Regions from separate parts of the Homo sapiens genome. Here region 1 is linked to region 2. The links come from fine-mapping of genetic effects on gene expression. Tissue or cell type: lung. Region 2 holds a variant in brackets; the other region holds the start of a gene. All regions are shown on one strand. Distances are from middle to middle.

Region 1 (10,506 bases), 38 kb before region 2:
AAAGACCCAATGGGAAACCTCCTGGACTTGATCAGAGGATTGGAAGCAAAAAAGAACACAGCCCGTGGGGAAGCTACAAGCAGGTCACTATGGAATATAAACAAAGTGCACATGCATGTGTGTGGGGGCGAGGGGTGGATGACAGAGGGGAGAAATGGCCTGGAGGGACTGGTAGAGCCAGGTCAGACCTAAGCCTTGATGTTCTCAGAAACAATGCTTAAGCAGCCCAGACAGACCTTGTAATGCCAGCTTCCTGGAGTCTGTGCCTAAAGCAGAGGACCCATCCTGGGGGAGACTCCCCAAGTCTCTTTTGAACACACTTGGTGGAAGAAGCTATCCTATAATTACTGTGGTGATAATTAGAGGCACCTGCATGGCCTCTTTCTTTCTTTTTTTTTTTTTGAGACGGCGTTTCGGAGTTTCGCTCTTGTTGCTCAGGCTGGAGTGCAGTGGCACGATCTCGGCTCACCGCAACCTCCGCCTCCCGGGTTCAAGCGATTCTCCTGCCTCAGCCTCCCGAGTAGCTGGGATTGCAGGCATGTGCCACTACCACCCGGCTAATTTTTGTATTTTTAGTAGGGATGGGGTTTCTCCATGTTGGCCAGGCTGGTCTTGAACTCCCGACCTCAGGTGATCTGCCCGCCTAGGCCTCCCAGTGTGCTGGGATTACAGGCATGAGCCACCGCACCCAGCCTCCATGGCTTCTTTCAGCAAATATTGCACAAGCTGTAGCGCTCTCACCTGCAGTGGGGTGCAGAGAGACAAAGCACCCCTCCTGGGGGAGCCTAATGCCTGAGTCTCTTGTGAAGCACACCTGACTCCCTGGCTGAGGCCCAAAGGTGTCACAGATACACCTGGGGCTGCTATAGCTTGGAGCTGAGTGCTGCTGGCAGGGAGACTAAAAGTCACTCCCAGTCGGGTGCGGTGGCTGACGCCTATAATCCTAGCACTTTGGGAGACCAAGGTGGGCAGATTGCCTGAGCTCAGGAGTTCGAGACCATCCTGGCCAACATGGTGAAACCCCGTCTCTACTAAAAATACGAAAAATAGCTGGGCATGGTGGTGGGTGCCTGTAATCCGAGCTGCTTGGGAGGCTGAGTCAGTAGAATGGCTTGAACCCAGGAGGTGGAGGTTTCAGTGAGCTGAGATTGCGCCACTGCACTCCAGCCGTGTGACAGAGCAAGACTCTGTCTCAAAATAAAATTAAAATTAAAAAGTCACTCCCCAGATGCCACAGTCTGGGCAGCTCCCAGGCAAGCCACAGGCTTCAGATTTATTCCAACCTTGCCCTCTGGGGAGACTTCAAGCCTGTAGAGATGTTGACTAGGATCTAGAGGTGCTGTCTACTTCTCGGCAACCTTAGCCTGAGATGCTCAAGCCATTAGTCTCTGGGCCCACACTTCATCTTCCTGGGACCAGGTACACGGTGTTTCCATGGCCTGGACATCATCCCAGCCCTGGCAAGTGCTGTGTAGCTTCTTCTAGGGTCTGCAGCCACATTTCCTCAAGAAACACTTCGGAGGTCTCTGGTTCAGATAGAGAGAAGAAAACCTCTCCTCATTCACCATACCTTCACCAAACCCCTTCTCCCTCCTTTCTTCCACCAGATTTTTCCCACTGAAAAGAATGGTCCCTTTGCTTCTGGGAAGGCCTTGACTTTCCTACTCTAGCAGCTCCCGTTTCATTCATCCAACACCAACTTTCCACTTGGCTTTGACTTCTATGACTCACTGGGAACCAAAGCCCAAGTGAATCGCCCAGAGGCTCAGTGTGGCATTTTCGTTTCAAAAGTGACATGTCTGGTCTGTTTTGTTCTTAGCTCTCCAAAGAAAAAGCTTCTGCATCACCCAAAGCCACTTCCAACGGCTTCTGGCCTTTCCCATGGGACCTAAAGCCTCACTCTGTGCCCCTTTGAAACTCAGAATGACTGCGTCACGTTCAAGGACACAGTTGGCTTTATGTAAAAGCACTTGGCAAGGTTGTGAGAGCTAAATGAATGTCAAGAATTTAGCCCCTGGCCGGACGCGGTGGCTCATGCCTGTAATCCCAGCACTTTGGGAGGCCGAGGTGGGCAGATCATTTGAAGCCAGGGGTTTGAGGAGTTTAGCCAACATGGTGAAACCCCATCTCTACTAAAAATAAAAAATTAGCTGGATGTGGTAGCGCACGCCTGTAATCCCCGCTACTTGGGAGGCTGAGGCAGAATTGCTTGAACCTGGGAGGCAGAGGTTGCAGTGAGCTGAGATCACGCCACTGCACTCCAGCCTGAGTGACAGAGCAAGACTCTGTCTCAAAAACAAACAAAAAAAGTAATTAAATTAAAAAAATTTTTTAAAAAAGAATTTAGCCCCTTTGCCTTCTCATCTCCCCTTAATATCCCTGCATCTGGTGGGTTTATGGCTGGACAGATCTTTGCAGGCCAGTGTCTTCTTGTGAATAGTGAGACTAAGGGTCCCTGGTGATTTGATATTTTCTTGTTGCCCTGCCTCAAACCCTCCCCTGGACCTCGATCTTTTTTTTTTTTTTTTTTTTTTGAGACGGAGTCTCACTCTGTCGCCAGGCTGGAGTGCAGTGGCGTGATCTAGGTCCACTGCAACCTCCACTCCCCGGTTCAAGCGATTCTACTGCCTCAGGCCTCCCAAGTAGCTGGGACTATAGGCATGGGTCACCACGTCCAGCGAATGTTTGTATTTTTAGTAGAGATGGGGTTTCACCATGTTGGCCAGGATAGTCACGACCTCTTGACCTCATGATCCACCTGCCTTGGCCTCCCAAAGTGCTGGGATTACAGGCGTGAGCCATCGCGCCCGGCCTGGACCTCAATCTCATCAGTGAGCCTTTTCCCAGGGCTCTCTGATAGAGCTTTGGAGGAAACACTTGGAACCTAACTGGTCCTGGCACCTGGCAGTGGGGGAATAAGGAAGGAGAGCTTTGCTTCTGAAGGGAAAGTGTACTTGGCTTTCTCTTTAAAGGGTTTCCCTTGGGGAACAGGCAAGCGGCAGATGTATGGGCAATGGCCAACTGATCCATTTGGAGATAGATTCAGGGTGTGGTGTTCCCTGTAAGCCTGGGCAGGCCCTGGGAAACTGGAGCAGAGCTAAATTCTGGCCTAAAGTTGGGCAAGCTGCAGAGAAGCTTGAGTACGTTGGTTTCAGGTGTGTGAGTTTTGCCTTCTGCAGAGAAACAGGGGGGTGAAGGGTGGGGGTGGAGGGGTGTCCAGGAGGGTTAGTGTATCTGTTGCCCAGGCATGTTTCTAAATTCTGAAGCTGCACTGGTTAATCATTTTTATTCATGAACACAGTAACTGGCAAGGAGGCTTAGCTGGGCCCTCAAAGTCTGGCCTCAGTGCACCTTCTCAGTATATTTTCTCAACACTCCAGCACAAATCACCCATCCCACTCTCGGATTCAAGCTCACCAGGAATTGGGCCTTACTTCATGCCATTCTTTCTTTCTAGAATGCCTTTTCTTTTTTTTTTTTCTTTTTCTTTTTCTTTTTCTTTTTTTTTTTTTGAGACAGAGTCTCGCTGTTGCCCAGGCTGGAGTGCAGTGGCGCAATCTCGGCTCACTGCAAGCTCTGCCTCCGGGGTTCACGCCATTCTCCTGCCTCAACCTCCTGAGTAGCTGGGATTACAGGCGTCCACCACCACGCCCGGCTAATTTTTTGTATTTTTAGTAGAGACAGGGTTTCACCGTGTTAACCAGGATGGTCCCGATCTCCTGACCTCATGATCCACCCACCTCGGCCTCCCAAAGTGCTGGGACTACAGGCGTGAGCCACCGCGCCCGGCCAAAAGAATGACTTTTCTTTGATAAGCCTCTCACCCTTTCAGACGGCCTCATCCACTCCTGGGGAAGCATTCCGCAGTACCTGGGGCCTCAATTAATCTCTCTCTTCTCTCTCCATCTAAGCTCCAGATTCACTTTGTTGGTCTCTGGTCTAGCTCTACCGTGTTTATTTCTGTGCCGGTTTCCAGACCTCCAAATGGACGGTTTCCTGAGCCTTCTGCCCTTGCTGTTCCCTCTGCCAGGAACTCTTTTCCTGTGGATCTTTGCAAGGCCAGCTCTCTGTCATCATTCAATATCAGCTCAAATGTCACCTCCTAAGCGAGGCCTTCCTTGACCACCCTATCTAAAGTAACCCACACCTCTGCTCACTCTCTGTCCCCTCACCTTGTGTTACAAAATGTGTTTTTGTAAAACTTAGCAGCATCTGAAATTATCTTATTTGTGGGCTTGGACTATGTCTCTTCCTTTAGAATGTAAGCTCTAGGAAGGCAGAGTGAGTTGACACATGGTTGGCACCCAACAAATATCTGTTGATTGATTCTGTGAAGGCAAGCGTGGGGTATTCGACTTGGTGCCGGGCCTGGGCGCAATAAAGGTTGGCTGCCTGGAATATTTGCTACCTGAATGAATGAACCAAGGAACATACGAACGAAGGAATGCAGCCCTCTGCCTGTTGACTGACAGGTTGACTGACAGTTGGGGGGCCCGTGGCCAGCAGACTGTTGACTGACGGTTGACAGCTGAGTGGCAGCCAACAGACGCGCATCGGGGTTCCCGATTGGCTGGTGCAGCAGCCCCTCGGAGAGGGGCGGAAGAGGGTACCCGAGGCGACATCTCCGCGTGGGGAGGGGGGCGGCACCAGGCAGCGGGAGGCGGCCCAACTGCTCTGGCTGTGCGAGCAGCAGCCGCCTAGAACCCAGGAGCCGACGTCTCTGCGCATGGGCCCGGCTCGAGGGGCGGGGCGCGCATCACGTGAGCGTGTTTTGGGCACGTGACCCGCGCGGGGCCAAGGCTCGCCCCCGCCCCCGCCCCTCCTCCCCTCGGCGGGTGTGATCGAGTGGCCTCGCCTCATCGCCTAGCGCCCCCCTCAGTCGCCGCCGCCTCCGCCCGCCGGCCATGTCCCCCGGCCGCCGCCGCCGCCGCCCGAGCGCGGCGCTCCCGCGGCCCCGCGCGCAGTGAGCGCGGGCCCGTCTTGCCGTTCGCCCGCCCCAGGGCCCCCTTGTTCTCCGCGCCGCCGCCGCCGCCATGTTGGGTTTGGAGCTGCAGCGGAGCCGCCGCCGCCGCCGCGGGTGAGGGAGGCCGAGAGCGGAGCCCGCCCCGCCCCGGGGCCCAGGGAGCGGGGCCGCTTCGGAGCCCGGCCTCTCCCCGCCAGCCGCCTTCCCGGCCCGCCGTGCAGCCAGCGAGCCAGCGAGCGAGCAAGCAAGCAAGCACCGGACCCCGGCCGCGCCTTCAGCTACGGCCCGAGCGAGCCCGCCGCCGCCGGGCCCGGCCACAGCCTGCAGCGGAGCCCACGAGAGGCAGCGCCATGGCGGAGCAGACCTACTCGTGGTGAGTGCGGGGCTCCGGGAGGCCGGGAGGCGGCAAGGGTGGGGGTCGGGGCGCCGGCGCGGCCCGCCGAGGGGAAGAGGAGGAAGAACAGGTGCGTGTCGTGGGGGGGGGGCGCGGGTTGGGGTGCACGCCCCCCTCTTCCCCACCGGAGGGGGCGGCTGGCGCGCACGGAGGGCGGTGAGTGGCCGGGGACCTGGCGTCCGAGAAGGGGAATGGAGGAGGAGGCAGCGGCGGATGTCATCTGGCTATGGGCGGAGCAGGTGATGGAGAAGGGGAGCATGACCCCGGGGGTGGGAATCCCACGGATGGGAAGTTGAATCCGACAGGCACCCCGGAACTGACTCGTGGGGGTGTTTCCTGGGCAGGAGGACTCGAAGGGGTGGAGAGAGGCAGGCCAGGGCAAAGGTGGGCCGCTGGGCTGAGAGGAAGCTCTAGTGAGAACAGGTGATAGAGGCAGAACTTCTAAGTTGGGAGAGTGGAGCGGCCGCCGCTTGGCTCTGGGACAGGGAGCGCAGGGAGAGTTGGTGAGGTGGGCAGAGGCCCGGGAGTGAGGGGAGGAAAACTGCGGGGGTAGAGTCCACGAACCTTGGAGGGGAGTCACTGGTGAAGAGGTTGGAAGAGGAGCCTGAAGAACCTGTTTCCTTTTCCTTCTGGAAAAGGAATTCGTTGGTGACAGTGGGGCATGGGCAGAGTCTTTGTAAGGGTTGGTACTATTATTTTCAGAGGAATGGCGCCCAGGGCCAAGTGTGGAGGTGGAGGACCTGCAAGTTAAGTTCATTTCTGTGGGGCTTTTAAAGTTAGTAAGTAGCTCGTTAAGGGCCGAGAAGCGAGAAGCTACTGTGTAGTTTATGGGGTGACAACCTACATATCCGGAGAAGGGAGTGCCAGGGTTTGGGGGAAGGAACATGAGGGGTCTCCCTTTAGCATGTAGAGGTGGGATATTTGCAGGACGGGTTGAAGGAATGATGGCAGTATCCATGAAGAGTGGAAATCGGGTAGTGAGAAGGAAGTCATAGCTGGAGAGTGAGGAAGCAAGAAATGGCATGATCGTAGGAGTGGGGGACCTGATTGCAATTTAGAGAAATGGTTTGAAGATGGTTTACTCTTGAAGCAAATGTGGTTTGGGACAGAACTGTAGACATTCCCTTCTTAGAAAAGAGCATAATAGAATGGGACGAGCATGCCGTGTGGAGTTGGAAGACCTATTTCGGAGGTCCGGTTTGCCACCAACTTGCTTTGTTGATACGACATGGTAGTGAGTTCTTCGGTCCTTTTTCCTTACCTATAAAATAGAGGGAATTACCTTTTCCACAGCCTGTAAGGATTAAGTGAGTACATTTAGAAAGCACTTGGCAAACTGTGAAGTGCCACAGATCTTACTACATTAATTATAATTATCCTAGAGAAACATCTAAGAAATGGGTAATATCAGAAAATAAGGAATGGTTTTAGGTAGAAGACTTTGAGTGGATTATTTATAGTGTTAGAGGTTATAAGTCAGTAACTCATTGAGTCTTCACATAAGAGAAAGGGAGTTGGGGATTGAAGATGATAATTCTTAAGAGAACTTCATTGATGTATGTGCAATCTCAAGAAGAAGGTAACTGAGAGACAAAGTAACCCTAAAGGAAGAATTAAAATCTTGGTGAACACGTGCTCTAAAAAGAGGTTTAAGCTAATTTCATAGTTTTGCGTGACAGCTGCCTTTCAGTAGCAGGTCGTAGGGAACACAAGATTACAATTTCAGCTTCCTTCTGGACAGAGTAAGAAATGAAGGTAAAGGTGTTTCTGTCATGCCTTGTGGTTACTCATCTTGAGCTTCTCATACTCTGGCCCTAATGGCTGTGGCCCTGAGAGTCCTAATGGCTGCTTTGCTGTTTTTACTGTGCTGTACAGAGGCCCTGGATGGTTGAAAGAATAGAAAACTCAGTGGTCAAGAAATGGGGAAAATGAAAATGTTTTACTAGGTAGGTTGGACACACACGACCTCTCTCTGACATTAGTTGGCTCTATTAAGGAGGGATTACTTTGTGAAGTTTGACAATTTACAAATTTATTCTACTAAAATACTTCCTTCAATGTCAGCTCTGTTTGCTTTACAGGCAAAGAAACTCCTTGAAATCGGGGAGCTTAGCCCCTCAACCTTTGGCAGGTTTTGAGATGAAGAAAATTTTTACATTATCTGGAGAGAGGGTGGCATATAAGGGGAGACTGGGGAAAGTGGGCAGTTTCCTTTTTTTTTTTTTTTTTTTTTAGGACGGAGTCTCGCTCTGTCACCCAGGCTGCAGTGCAGTGGCGCCATCTCGGCTCACTGCAGCCTCCGCTTCCCGGGTGCAAGCAATTCTTATGCCTCAGCCTCCCGAGTAGCTGGGACTACAGCCACATGCCACCATGCCCGGCTTTTTTTTGTATTTTTAGTAGAGATGGGGTTTCACCATGTTGGCCAGGCTGGTCTCAAACTCCTGACCCAGTGATCTGCCCACCTCGGCTTCCCAAAGTGCTGGGATTGCAGGCATGAACCACCGTGCCCGGCCACAGCTTCCTATTTAATAGTTGTTCCTGATTCAACTGACTAATAATATAATAAAATAAGGAACTATACACATGGCATTAAATATACACATTTAATTCTCACAAGTTTCTGAGGTAGGTGATATTTCCCTGTTTCACAGAGGAAGAAACAGGCTTGGGAGGCCAAGTGGTATGTTTAAAGTACTTCACTTGTGATGCTTTATTTTGTTTGACATGAATTCTCCCATCATTTTACTCATTCTTATTGAAATATAAATATGGAAAAGGTATTCCAGTAGTCTATGTAGACTGATTTTTGGATTATCTGTCATTTTGCAGTTATCTTTGTCACTCTTCCCTTGGCTTGTGCAAACAATCAAGAGTTGATTACTTTTTTTTTTTTTTTTTTTGTGAGACAGGGTCTCACTCTTTCGCCCAGGCTGGAATGCAGTGGCCCGATCTAAGCTCACTGCAGCGTCTGCCTCCCAGGTTCAGACAATTCTCCTGCCTCAGCCCTGCAGGTGGCTGGGACCACAGACGTGCACAACCACGTCTGCTAGTTTATTTATTTATTTATTTTGTATTTTTACTAGAGACAGGGTTTTGCCATGTTGCCCAGGCTGGTCTTGAACTCCTGACCTCAAGCAGTCTGCCTGGGATTGGCCTCCCAAAGTGCTGGGATTACAGGCGTGAGCCACCACACCCGGCAATTGATCTCTCTTTTTTTTTTTTTTTTCCTTGAGACAGGGTCTCACTTTATCATGCAGGCTGGAGTGCAGTGGCAAGATCACAGCAGTGCCTCCAGGGCTTAAGCGATCCTCCCACCTCAGCCTCCTGAGTAGCTGGAACTACAGGTGTGCCCCACCACGCCCGGCTGATTATTGCATTTTTTGTATTGTGTTTCGCCATGTTGCCGGTGCTGGTCTTGAACTCAGCCCAAGTGATCTGCCTGCTTTGGCCTCCCGAAGTGCTGGGATTATAGGCGTGAGCAACAGTGCCTGGTCCTGCTGTTTTTTTTTTTAAACAGATTTGCACTTTGTTTGTATGTGACCTTTGGAAAAACCAAACTGTGGAGACTGTTGTGCCACTAAAGATTTGTCTGAGGATGGACTCGGTGAAGAATATAAAGGCATATGCAGATGGGCTCCCTTAGGATTTTCGTATAATAAGATGTAAATTATTGGCAATGAGTTGATCATTACTGGAGCTGGGTGATGAGTACATGGAGGTTTATTATTCTGTTGACTTTTACATGTTTAAATTTTTCAGAATAAAAAGTTTTTTCAACAAGGCCCTTTATATGTAAGTTCACGTGTGCTTGCTCTCTTCCTAGCAAATTCTATCAAAATCCTGTACTCAAGGGTTCAACTCAAATTCTGCTTAGCTGTGAAGCATTTTCTGACCACCCCATATGAAAATGATCTTTTTTTTTTTTTTTTTTTTTTGAGACAGGGTCTTGCTCTGTCGCCCAAGAGTGCAATGGCATGATCTCCGCTCACAGCAACCTCCGCCTCCTGGGTTCAAGCGATTCTTGTGCCTCAGCCTCCCGAGTAGCTGGGATTACAGGCGTGTACCACCATGCCCGGCTAATTTTTTTGTATTTTTAGTAGAGATGGGATTTCACCATGTTAGCCAGGATGGTCTTGATCTCCTGACCTCAGGTGATCCTCCCGCCTCAGCCTCCCAAAGTGCTGGGATTATAGGTGTGAGCCACTGTGCCCGGCGATCTTTTTATTTTTAATACTTACAGTTCTGTCTGCATAATTCCTTCCTTATCTCATGTAAATGCCTAATCTAACTATATTGTAAACTCCTTGAGAGTAAGGACCATATGACACTAACCTTGGTTCTCCCATAGTGCCTAGCACATTGTAGTACACATAGACCCTACTGAGTAAATACCAAGTGGTAAATATGACACTGAATTTCAGGATGGTTCATCCTTTGTTGAAAGAATATTAAACATAAGGAGGATGCTACTGAGTGAAAAATAAGTGTTTATAACCCAAGTACTTATCAAAGAGGGCTTTTTGTAACTTGGTTTCCTGATGTACCAGTGCTGCAAGAATGAGGAATGCCATCCTTTATTAAAGTTCTAAATAAAAGCTATTAACAGAATAAATTGAAATAATTGGTAGTAACATCAGAATCTTTATCACAATTTAACTACAAGATTCTCCTTATAGCCTTTTTTCTCACATACACTGAGGAAGTAAAAGAATGCATGTGAAAACACAGATTGAATGTGCTAACTAGACTTTTATTAATTTGAGAAAAACACCTTTCTTCCTGTATATTTATGAGCAGTTTTAGTGTAAGTTCTGTGAGAAACGGGAACTCGTCTCTTGATGAAGCAAAATGTGGTACTTATATATAACTGGTATTGAACCCCTGCTCAACATTACTAATGTTGGTGTGAGGGAAAAGGAAGTCAATTTATTTGAACTCCTTCAAGTGAATTTTGTTACCAAAATACTATCATAATAACTTGTGTATTTTCTATGTGATAGAGTTTTACGAGCATTGCTAAGTAAGGAAATTGAGGCTCAAAGCATGTAAGTAACTTGCCCAAGGATGTAAATGGTAAAGGGCTCAAAGGGAAGATTATCTGACACAAATTCTGACACTGAATCTGTCCACTTAATGTTTCCACAGTGTT
Region 2 (10,506 bases):
TTATGTCAATTCTGCTTTCTACTTTGCCAGCTTTTTTTCTTTTTACTTTTTAAAAAACTGTGGTAAAATGTATATATAACATAAAATTTACCATTTTAATCGTTTTTAAATGTACTGTCATGTGGTATTATGTGTATTCACATTGTTGTGCAGTCATCATCACTGTTTACCTCCAGAACTTTTTCTTTTTTTTTTTTTTTTTTTGGAGACGGAGTCTCACTCTGTCGCCCAGGCTGGAGTGCAGTGGCATGATCTCAGCTCACTGCAACTTCTGCCTCCTGGGTTCAAGCGATTCTCCTGTCTCAGCCTCCCGAATAACTGGGACTATAGGTGCCTGGCGCCATGCCCGGCTGTTTTTTTTTGTGTTTTAGTAGAGACAAGGTTTCACCATGTTGCCTAGGCTGGTCTTGAACTCCTGAGCTGAGGCAATCTGCCCGCCTCCGCCTCCCAAAGTTCATCTTCTTAAACTGAAACTCTGTACTTATTAAACAGCAACCTTCATTTTCCTCTCACTGAGCCCCTGGCAGCCACCATTCCACTGTCTATGAATTTGACTGCTCTAGCTAGGTCACATAAATGGAATCCTTTATTTGTCCTTTTGTGACTGGCATACTTCACTTATCATGTCTTCAGGGTTCATCCCTGTTGTAGCATGTATCAGAATTTAAGAATTAACTTTTTTTTTTAAAGCTGAGTAATATTTGAATGTATAGATAGGCCACATTTTTCTTACCCATTCTTTCATCACTGGGCATGGGTTGCTTCCACCCTTTGGCTATTGTGAATAATGCTGCTGTGAACATTGCTGTACAGACATCTCTCAAGACTCTGCTTTCTGTTCTTCCCAGTTTGATTTTTGCATTTATCTTTGTATCTTTTTTCTTTCTTTTTTTCTGAGACCGAGTTTCACCCTTGTTGCCCAGGCTGGAGTGCTCAATCTCTGCTTACCGTGACCTCTGCCTCCCGGGTTCAAGTGATTCTCCTGCCTCAGCCTCCCGAGTAGCTGGGATTACAGGCATGCGCCACCACGACCAGCTAATTTTGTATTTTTAGTAGAGATGGGGTTTCTCCATGTTGGTCAGGCTGGTCTCAAACTCCTGACCTCAGGTGATCCACCCGCCTCAGCCTCCCAAAGTGCTGGGATTACAGGCATGAGCCACTGCACTTGGCCCTTTTTTTTCTTTATTACTTTGCTTTTATTCTGAATCTGAAGATGTGTTCTTTTTTCCATGTTGACAATATAATTTAAAACTGAACGTTTCTTTTACGGTCTGCATCCTTTACAGTAAGCTAAACATTTTTGGTTACATTTGTTGAAAACAGTATGAAAGATTCAATGGCTTTATGTCACTGACAAATTTTCATTTTGGACAACATGCTAGTGTGAGTAGTTTCTGGTCCAGTGAAATCCAGTTTTCAGATATTCCTATTTTTGGATTCTCAGCTGTGTATTTGAAATCATCACATTTGAAATTTGTTTGTTCCAGAACATATATGTTCTCATTCTTGTTTGTACTTGAGTCATGTTTAATCACATATATTTGTAGTATGCTTAGATGTAGTAGTTTCCATTTTCATAACTACTTTTCTGTTGATCCATTATGGTGAATTGCAGCTACAAAGTCATACTGTGTAGTAGCGAAAATGCTAACATAAGAAGTAAATAGTAGCAAGCAAAGGATTTTTAAAATATCCAACCTAGTCATATATACCCGTTTAGCTCAGTAGTTCTCAGCTGTGGTAATACCATTCTCTGGTGTGCATTTTTGAAATTCATGAGAACATTTTTGTTTGGCACCATAGTAGAGGTCGTTACAGGCATTTAATGGACAGGGTTTAGGTCTGCTAGATGTCTTGCAGTGTGCAGGAAAGTGCTACAGCGAATAACTATTCTGTCTCATATGGTGTTTGAAGCTCCTTTAATTAAGTCTAAAATATTTTACATATAAACACAAATCATTTTTTACATGATAAACTACATTTTCTATGAATGGCACTGTTGTGTAAATCAAGGAGTGAGTAATGTTTTTTCATTTAAGGCTTTACCAAGAGTTTGCCATTTTGGTAGAATGCATCACCTACAGCAGTACTCCTCATGGTATCGTAGTCACCATTCGACACACCTGATTCAGTCTGCATTTGTTGCTGTCACATTCATGGTGATGTTTCAAATTGATGCAAGCATTTTATTATATCATGTTATTTCCTAGTGTATTGGTGCTCGAGTTTTAATATATTAAATAGTGTTTTATTATGAATCAGCTTCCTTTTCTTTATTCCCCATATTATAGTTAGGACATTGTAATTTTTTAAGTTATGTAGACTATTAATATAATTTCAATATAATGAAGAGACTTAAAATTTTTCATTATGAACAGATGTTAGGTGTGGTAAACTTGGGAGCCAGTGAATTGACTGAATTATAGCAGTCGCTATGGCACCTCCACAGCCTTTAAGATTACTTCAGTATTTCTGTGAAAAGTTATTAATATTACACTTCAGATGTATATGAAAATATTATTTTATTGATTTTCCTTAGAAATTACCACACCATTGGCCGGGCATGGTGGCTTACCCCTGTAATCTCAGCACTTTGGGAGGCCGAGGTGGGTGGATGACGAGGTCAAGAGATTGAGACCATCCTAGCCAACTTGGTGAAACCCCGTCTCTACTAAAAATACAAAAATTAGCTGGGCATGGTGGCATGCGCCTGTAGTCCCAGCTACTTGGGAGGCTGAGGCAGGAGAATCGCTTGAACCCAGGAGGTGGAGGTTTCAGTGAGTCAAGATTGTGCCACTGCACTCTAGTGACAGAGTGAGAATCCGTCTCAAAATAAATAAATACAAATAAAACAAAAACAAAAAAAAAGAAAAAAGAAATTACTACACCATCTATCTGTTGACCACTTGACAAGTGATTGGGTGATACTGGTGGTCCGTGGACTACACTTTGAAAAGCAGTGCCACATATCCTGTATTGCTTTTGTATTAACCTTGTTGTCCTCAATTACTGAATTTGCTCTGTACTCCACTTTATCAGATACCATTTTTTCCCTAACATTTTTTTTTTTTATTTTGCAGTGACAGGGTCTTGCTCCGTCACCCAGGCTGGAGTGCAGTGGCATGATCATGGCTCACTGCACCCATGACCTCCCAGGCTTAAGGGATCCTTCTGCCTCATCCTCCTGAATGGCTGGGATTATAGGTACACACCACCATGCTTAATTTATTTTTTGTAAAGATGAGGTCTCACTGTGTTGCCTGGGCTGAACTATAATTTTTATACATAGGCTGGGTGCCGTGGCCCATGCCTGTAATCCCAGCATTTTGGGAGGCCAAGGCATGCGGTTCACTTGAGGTTAGGAGTTCGAGACCAGCCTGGCCAACATGGTGAAACCCCGTCTCTACAAAAGATACAAATTTAGCTGGGTGTGGTGGCAGGTGCCTGTAATCCCAGCTACTCGGGAGGCTGAGGCAGGAGAATCACTTGAACCCGGGAGGTGGAGGTTGCGGTGAGCCGAGATCATGCCTCTCTGCACTTTAGCCTGGACAACAGAGCGAGACTCTGTCTCAAAAAAAAATTTTTTTTTAATACATGAATTGTCTAATACCATAGTTGTTCAACTCTAAGATAAACTTCTTCTCAGCACCATTAAGTATGTATATATATATATACATTTTTAAGACAGAGTCTCGCTCTGTAGCCAGGCTGGAGTGATCTTGGCTCCCTGCAACCTCCGCCTCCCGGGTTCAAGCGATTCCTCTGCCTCAGCCTCTCAAGTAGCTGGGACTACAGGCACGTACCATCACACCCAGCTAGTTTTTTGTATTTTAGTGGAGACAAAGTTTCACCATGTTAGCCAGGATGGTCTCGATCTCCTGACCTTGTGATCCACCCACCTCGGCCTTCCAAAGTGCTGGGATTACAGGCGTGAGCCACCGCGCCCAGCTACACCATTAAATATTTTTGATGGTCCTTTGTAGTTCTTAATGTCAAAAGAAATTCACCAAGTGCTGTCGCAGATGTCATTGCCTGCATATATATAAACTTTGCCATGCATGGAGGTGTCTTTTCAACCATTTATCATCAGATTAAAGTTATTTGCACTGACAACATTACACATGGCTGAATTTTAAGTTACATTTAGATATGTAATTATTTTCTGTATCTTTCTCAAAAAGAGTGTGCTACAAGGATTATTTTATATGTAGGAAATAGCCTGTTCCAAGATAAATAATACAGTTAAAAGCAATAGAAATTGCTAAATCTTAGGAGTACATTGTAGAGTTTGAGAGATAATGGAGGTTACCTATGACTGACTCATGACTTAGGATGGATTATCACTCAAGCACTAATGTTTTAAAAAACGTTCCTTATTTTTAAGAGAAACTGCTTAATTTCTAGGGACATCTATTTGAGGAAAGATGAAACTGAGTTTAAAGACAAAATTCAGAGGATTCTCAGATGTTCTTTTATTTGCCTCAGAATTATGCTGTCAGTCCCAAAGATGTCAAAAAGAACAGAATTCTGACTTTGAGAAGTGACATGTTTGATACTATTGCATAACTGGAGATGGCCAAAAGTTCAGAAAAATCACTAGACTTTGAATGTTAAGAAAGTTTCAGTTCAAACTTTTATCAGATTCTGAAAAGGAAAGTGGTATGTAACTGTTTTGAGAAATGTATGCTATTATTTTACAATCCATTGTGTCTTAGAATAGAAGAAATACATTATTTCTCCGTTTTAAATTCTTTCCTTTTTTTGAACATGCCTTTTTCAGGATAAACTTTGCCATGTGTGGAGGTGTCTTTTCAAGGTAAATTATGCCTTACTATTTCAGTTAATTCAGAAAATGACTTTTGATGTTGACTATCTTTTAATAGTTCTAAATTCCTCAAATATAATGTTCTCTCTAGAGGTATATGTCCCAACCTTGCGTAATAGGAATTTCCTAATGTGTTGTTACACGGATTCCCAGGCTCTTTCCCTTAAGTTTATGATGTATAGTCTAGGGTGGAACCCAGGAATCTAGATTTGGCGGAGGTACCTTAGGTCACAGGCCTCCAACGTTTTTGGCACCAGGGACTGGTTTTGTGGAAGACAGTTTTTCTATGGATGGGGAGGAGGGGGAGGATGTTTTGGGGATGATTCAAGCACATTACTTTATGTTGCATTTTATTTCTGTTATTACACTGTAATATATAATGAAATATAATTATACAACTCACCATAATGGAGAATCAGTGGGAGCCCTGAGCTTGTTTTCCTGCAACTAGGCAGTCCCACCTGAGTGTGATGGGAATCAGTGACAGATCAT[C/T]GGGCATTAGATTCTCATAAGGAGCACACAACCTAGATCCCTCGCATGCACAGTTCACAATAGGGTTCTCACTCCTATGAGAATCTAATGCCACTGCTGATCTGACAGGAGGTAGAACTCAGGCGTTAATGTGAGCGATGGGGAGCAGCTGTAAGTACAGATGATTTTGCTCACTTGCCTGCCTGTCTCCTCCTACAGTACGGCCCAGTTTCTAACAGGCCACTAACTGGTGGCAGTCTGTGGCCTGGGGGTTGGAGACCCCTGCCTTAGGTGATTCTTCCAGGCTAGCTTGGGAAACACTGCTGTAGAGCGTAGGCTCCTCCCTGGGGATCCTGCCTAGTCTTGACTACTGTATAAAATTTCATTGCTACAACTTAGAATGCATCTACTATCCCAGGATTATAGTAGTATAATATATACTAATAAATACAGTAATATTTAGAATATTGGTAACAGGTTGTGAGCACTTAACTGTGTGTAAGGACCCATGCCAAACACTGAATAGGTTGTTGAATCCTCACAGCTTTCATAGATAGATACTATTGTACTCATTTTGCAAATAAGGATAAATAATCTGTACAAGGCCTTACAGCCAGTAAGTGGTAGACCCAGGATTGGAACCCAAGCAAACTGACTTTAGAGCCTGTGCTCTTAAACCACACTGTACTGGCCGTTGTAGATCAGATGCTGAGCTGTGCTGATTGTGCAGTGCATTGTAGAGCAGTGTACAGTTCGCTATGAGCGTGAGGTAACAGATATGGTAAGACATGAAACAGTGGCATTTTCATGTGGGAGGGTGTCAGAGCAGTCAGCAGTTATATTAAAACAGTAACCAATCTTGAAGGGCCACAAAGTGATCAACTGGGTAACTGTTGATGTTTCTCTAGATTAGCACTTCTCAAAGTGTGGCCCCTATTTCCCTGGAAATCCCTGAAAATCTCTCATGGGATCCTCAAGGTCAAACCTTTATATAGTATTTCTGAGAAGTTATCTTTCTCTCTGTGTTAACATTTGTATTGATGGTACTGCTGGTGCCTAAGCGTGAATCAAGGCAGTGGCACCAAAGTGTGCTCATAGACATTGTATTCCACACACTCTACAGTTTTGTTTTGTTATTTTTTTAACCCAGTTTCACTTAAGAATGCGTAAAAAAATACTCCTTTGGTTAACTCTTGACACTAGATTGCACATCTTTTTAATGCTTTGTGTGATGTAATGGGAAGGTCACACAAGGCACTTCTGCTGCGTGTTGAAGTACTGTGGTTGTTTTAAGGAAAAGCACCTGTAGGGTTGAGTTACATGCTGACCTAACCATCTTTTTTCATGGACATTTTTACTTTTAAGAATAACTAATAAACTATGGTTATTCAGCTTTGAGTATTTGGCAGATTTTGTAAAAAATGAAAGGACTGATAATATTTGTTGCCAGTGATAAGATTTTTGGGCTTGATGACTTCCCAGGTTTTGTTTTTGTTTTTGTTTTTTGAGATGGGGTTTCGTTCTTGTCTGGGCTGGAGTGCAATGGCATGATCTCGGCTCGCTGCAGCCTCCGACTCCCAGGTTCAAGCAGTTCTCCTGCCTCAGCCTCCCAAGTAGCTGGGATTACAGGCATGTGCCACCACACCCGGCTGATTTTTATATTTTTAGTAGAGATGGAGTTTCACCATGTTGGCCAGGCTGGTCTTGAACTCCTGACCTCAGGTGATCCACCTAGCTCGGCCTCCCAAAGTGCTGGGATCACAGGCATGAGCCACTGGGCCTGGCCTACAACTTCCCAGTATTTAAAGACTTCTGTGATGAGATCAGTGGTAATAGATGGAATTTTTAGTATTGGATAATGAAATACATAAGCATTTTGAAGAGCTCACAACTGAGGAAACAAATATTAACTTACCAGTGCATGATGTACAGAATTATGCATGGGTAAGGATCCATTCAGAGTGAAGGCAGACATGGATTTTAATGTAACAGAGTACAGAAAGTTCATTGATAGGGTTTTAGATTTTACATTGGAGCTAACCTTTAGGAAACTACCATCTAGGCTGGGTGTGGTAGCTCATGCCCGGGATCTCAGCACCTTGGGAGGCCAAGGTGGGAGGATTGCTGGAGGCCAGGATTTCAAAACCAGCCTGGGCAGCAAGCAAGGCTCCATCTCTGCAAGAAAAAAAGAAAAGAAAAGAAAAAGAAAGCTACAAGAAAAAAAAAAAAAAAAGCTAAATGTGGTGACTTGACCCTGTGGGCCTAGCTACTTGGGAGGTTGAGGCAGGAGGATAGCTTCAGCCCAGGAGTTCGAGGCTACAGTCAGCTGTGATCACTCCAGCCTGAGCAATAAAACGAGAATACATTTCAAAAAGAATTAAAAAACCTACCATCTGTAGAATTTCATTTCAGTATTGAAGAATAATATCTACGATTACCTGAAAGGCTCTTAAAATACCACTCACATTTTAAACTATAGATATGCATGCAGTTGAATTTTCTTCATGTACTTGAACCAAACTATATATCATAGTACAGATTAAATGCCGAAGCAGATACGAGAATACTGCTGACTTCGATTAAGCCAGACATTAAAGATATTTGCAGAAATGTAAAACGGTACCATTCCTCTCACTAATTTTTACTTTCAAAAGAGTTATTTTTCATTAAAACTTTTTTTTTTTTTCTTTTGAGATGGAGTCTCGCTCTGTCACCCAGGCTGGGGTGCAGTGGTGTGATCTCAGCTCACTGCAACCTCTGCCTCCTGGGTTCAAGTGATTCTTCTGGCTTAGCCTCTGGAGTAGCCGGGATTATAGGCATGCACCACCACACCCAGCTAATTTTTGTATTTTTAGTAAAGATAGGGTTTCACCATGTTGGCCAGGCTGGTCTCAAACTCCTGACCTCAGGTGATCCACCCACCTCAGCCTCCCAGAGTGCTGGGATTACAGGTGTGTGCCACCATGCCTGGCCTAGATGTTGTGATAAATATATATTTGGTCTTTATCCCAGGTTCCTGGCATAATAGCTTTTATAATAAAGCCCTTAGAATTTCGTGATAGAGGAGAGAGGAGCATCTTTTGTTATTCATGAGAAGTCCCTTTCAACCCTACCTGAGTTTATGCTAATGAGCTGAGTCTTAGTGGGCTCCTAAATAGCTTCTGGATGATGACTGGTTGCTAGAAGAACCAATAGAGGGTTGGAAATATAACCCCTTCCCTCAACCTCTGCAGAGGGGAGAGGGGTTGGAGATTGAGCCCAGCCAGGAAAGGCCAGTGATTTAATCAATCATGCCTGTGTAATGGAACCTCCAAAAAATCCTTAAAAATTGAGTTCTGAGAGCTTCTGGACTTGTGAACTGGTGCTGGGAGGACAGTGCACCCACCGAAGGCATGGAAACTTTGCATACTCCTCTCAGCCCTCCATTCCTTGCCCTGTGCATGTCTTTTATTTTTCTGCTCCTGAGTTGTATCCTTTATAATAAACCAACAATAGTAAGTAAATTGTTTTCCTGAGTTCAGTGAGCCATCCTAGCAAATGGTCAAACCTGAGAAAGGGATTGTGGAAACCCCTAACTTTGTAGCTGATGAGTCAGAAGTACGGGTGACCTGGACTTGATACCGGCACCTGAAATAGAGGCAATCTCATGAGACCTAGCCCTTAACATGCAGGGCCTGTGACACCTTTGGGTAATAGTGTCAGAATTGAATTGATGAACATCTAATTATTATTGGAAAATTGGTTATTGACATGGAAAAAACCCACACATTTGGTGTCAGAAGTGTTAAGAGTAGAAACAGATCATAGAAATATGTGTAATTTATGTTAATGTATAATGAGTTTATTTTAAAATGAATAAATATTTTTCATATTCACAGTTTCAATGTCTAATATGGTAAATATCAGGAAGTATAATCTATATAAACAAATGCCCTTTGGGGTCCTCAACAAGAGTCCTGAACTAAAAAGTTTGAAAACTACTTCTCTGGACACTGTGGACATTATTTTCTGTAGTACTGCCTACATTGTAATTCATGTTCACTTATTTACTATTGTTTTGGAATCTTAATACCTTCAAGTATGTTGCTCAAAATTCTAGAATTGAAGACATGAAGATGTTGAGCACTACAGCCCAAAGTGATATTCCCAATCCTTTGAGTTCCCAGTCCCTCTCTTACCCCTAACTCCCTCACAGCCCTTCTGTTCTCTCCTTTTGGTATCTCAGAAATCTTGGGTATCAGAAATCATTTCATAATACAAGTAACAAGGAATAAGATAACCTGTTAGAAGATTGGATTGGTTTTTATATGTTACAATTTCAGGCATATGATTTTTAAATCTGCCAGAGAGGTGATTGTATACTGAGTAATATCAGTCAGCGTACTCCCCTGCCAGATAAACCAGGACTCAGTCCGCTGCTAGGATGCGTTTCAATGAAGACATCTGACCTGTGTGGTATGTCTTCAGGGCATTGTAGTTGACAGTAGTAATGCAAGGATCTACCACAGCCTGTTTAAAATATGACCAGAAATGTGGCTGCTGGAGTAGCTAGATGAAATATAGACCACACTGATAAAAAAAAATCTTACTCTTTTTCCCTTCCTGTTATTTATTGCCAACACCCTTTTCAAGGATCTGTCCTTTTGGAGAATTTTTGTACTTTGTCTCCTTCCTTTTTCTGTTTTTCTAGCATGTTCTCATTTAAGAATAAGCAAACTATGGCCTGCAAGCCAAATCTGACCTACAACCTGTTTTTGTAAATAAAGCTTTATTGTAACACAGCCATGCCCATTTGTTTACATATCATCTATGGCTGCTTTCATGCTAGAATGGCAGAGTTGATTTGAGAACAGTTGGCCCTGTCTCTGTGGGTTCCACATTCATGATTTAGTCAACCTCAGATAAAAAATATTTGAGGGAGAAAAAACAAAAGTAATACAAATGAAAACAATATGGTAAAACAGGTATTTATATAGCGTTTTCATTGTACTATGTATTGTAAGTAATATAGCGATGATTTAAAGTATATGAGAGTCCTGTGGAGCCCTGAAATGGGAGGAGGAAAAAAGTATACAGGTGGATGTGTGTAGGTTGTATGTAAATACTACACTGTTTTATAAGGGACTGGAGCATCCAAGGATTTTAGTATCTAGAAGGGGAGTAGGGGGTTGTCCTGGAACCAGTCCCCCAAAGATAGGGAGGACTGTAGT

Evidence for each region. PIP is the estimated chance that this variant, and not a neighbour inherited with it, causes the effect.
Region 1: SPPL3 starts here. The variant in region 2 is fine-mapped to the expression of SPPL3 in lung (GTEx, PIP 0.91).

The regions. Positions count from the first base shown.
Region 1 is chr12:120,898,675-120,909,180 of GRCh38, reverse strand. SPPL3 (signal peptide peptidase like 3) reads left to right here and starts at 4,823. Exons shown (of 11, transcript NM_139015.5): 1 at 4,823-5,336. The coding sequence starts at 5,314. XLOC_009911 (a long non-coding RNA gene) reads right to left here and starts at 4,486. Exons shown (of 2, transcript NR_131215.1): 1 at 4,409-4,486; 2 at 1,107-1,526. RefSeq lists silencers at 4,624-4,983, 5,064-5,283, 5,424-5,473.
Region 2 is chr12:120,860,829-120,871,334 of GRCh38, reverse strand. The region is part of intron 1 of SPPL3 (signal peptide peptidase like 3); the gene reads left to right. Among named protein-coding and RNA genes, the nearest start is that of SPPL3, 38 kb to the left of the region's middle. The variant C/T (reference allele first, on the strand shown) is at 5,318.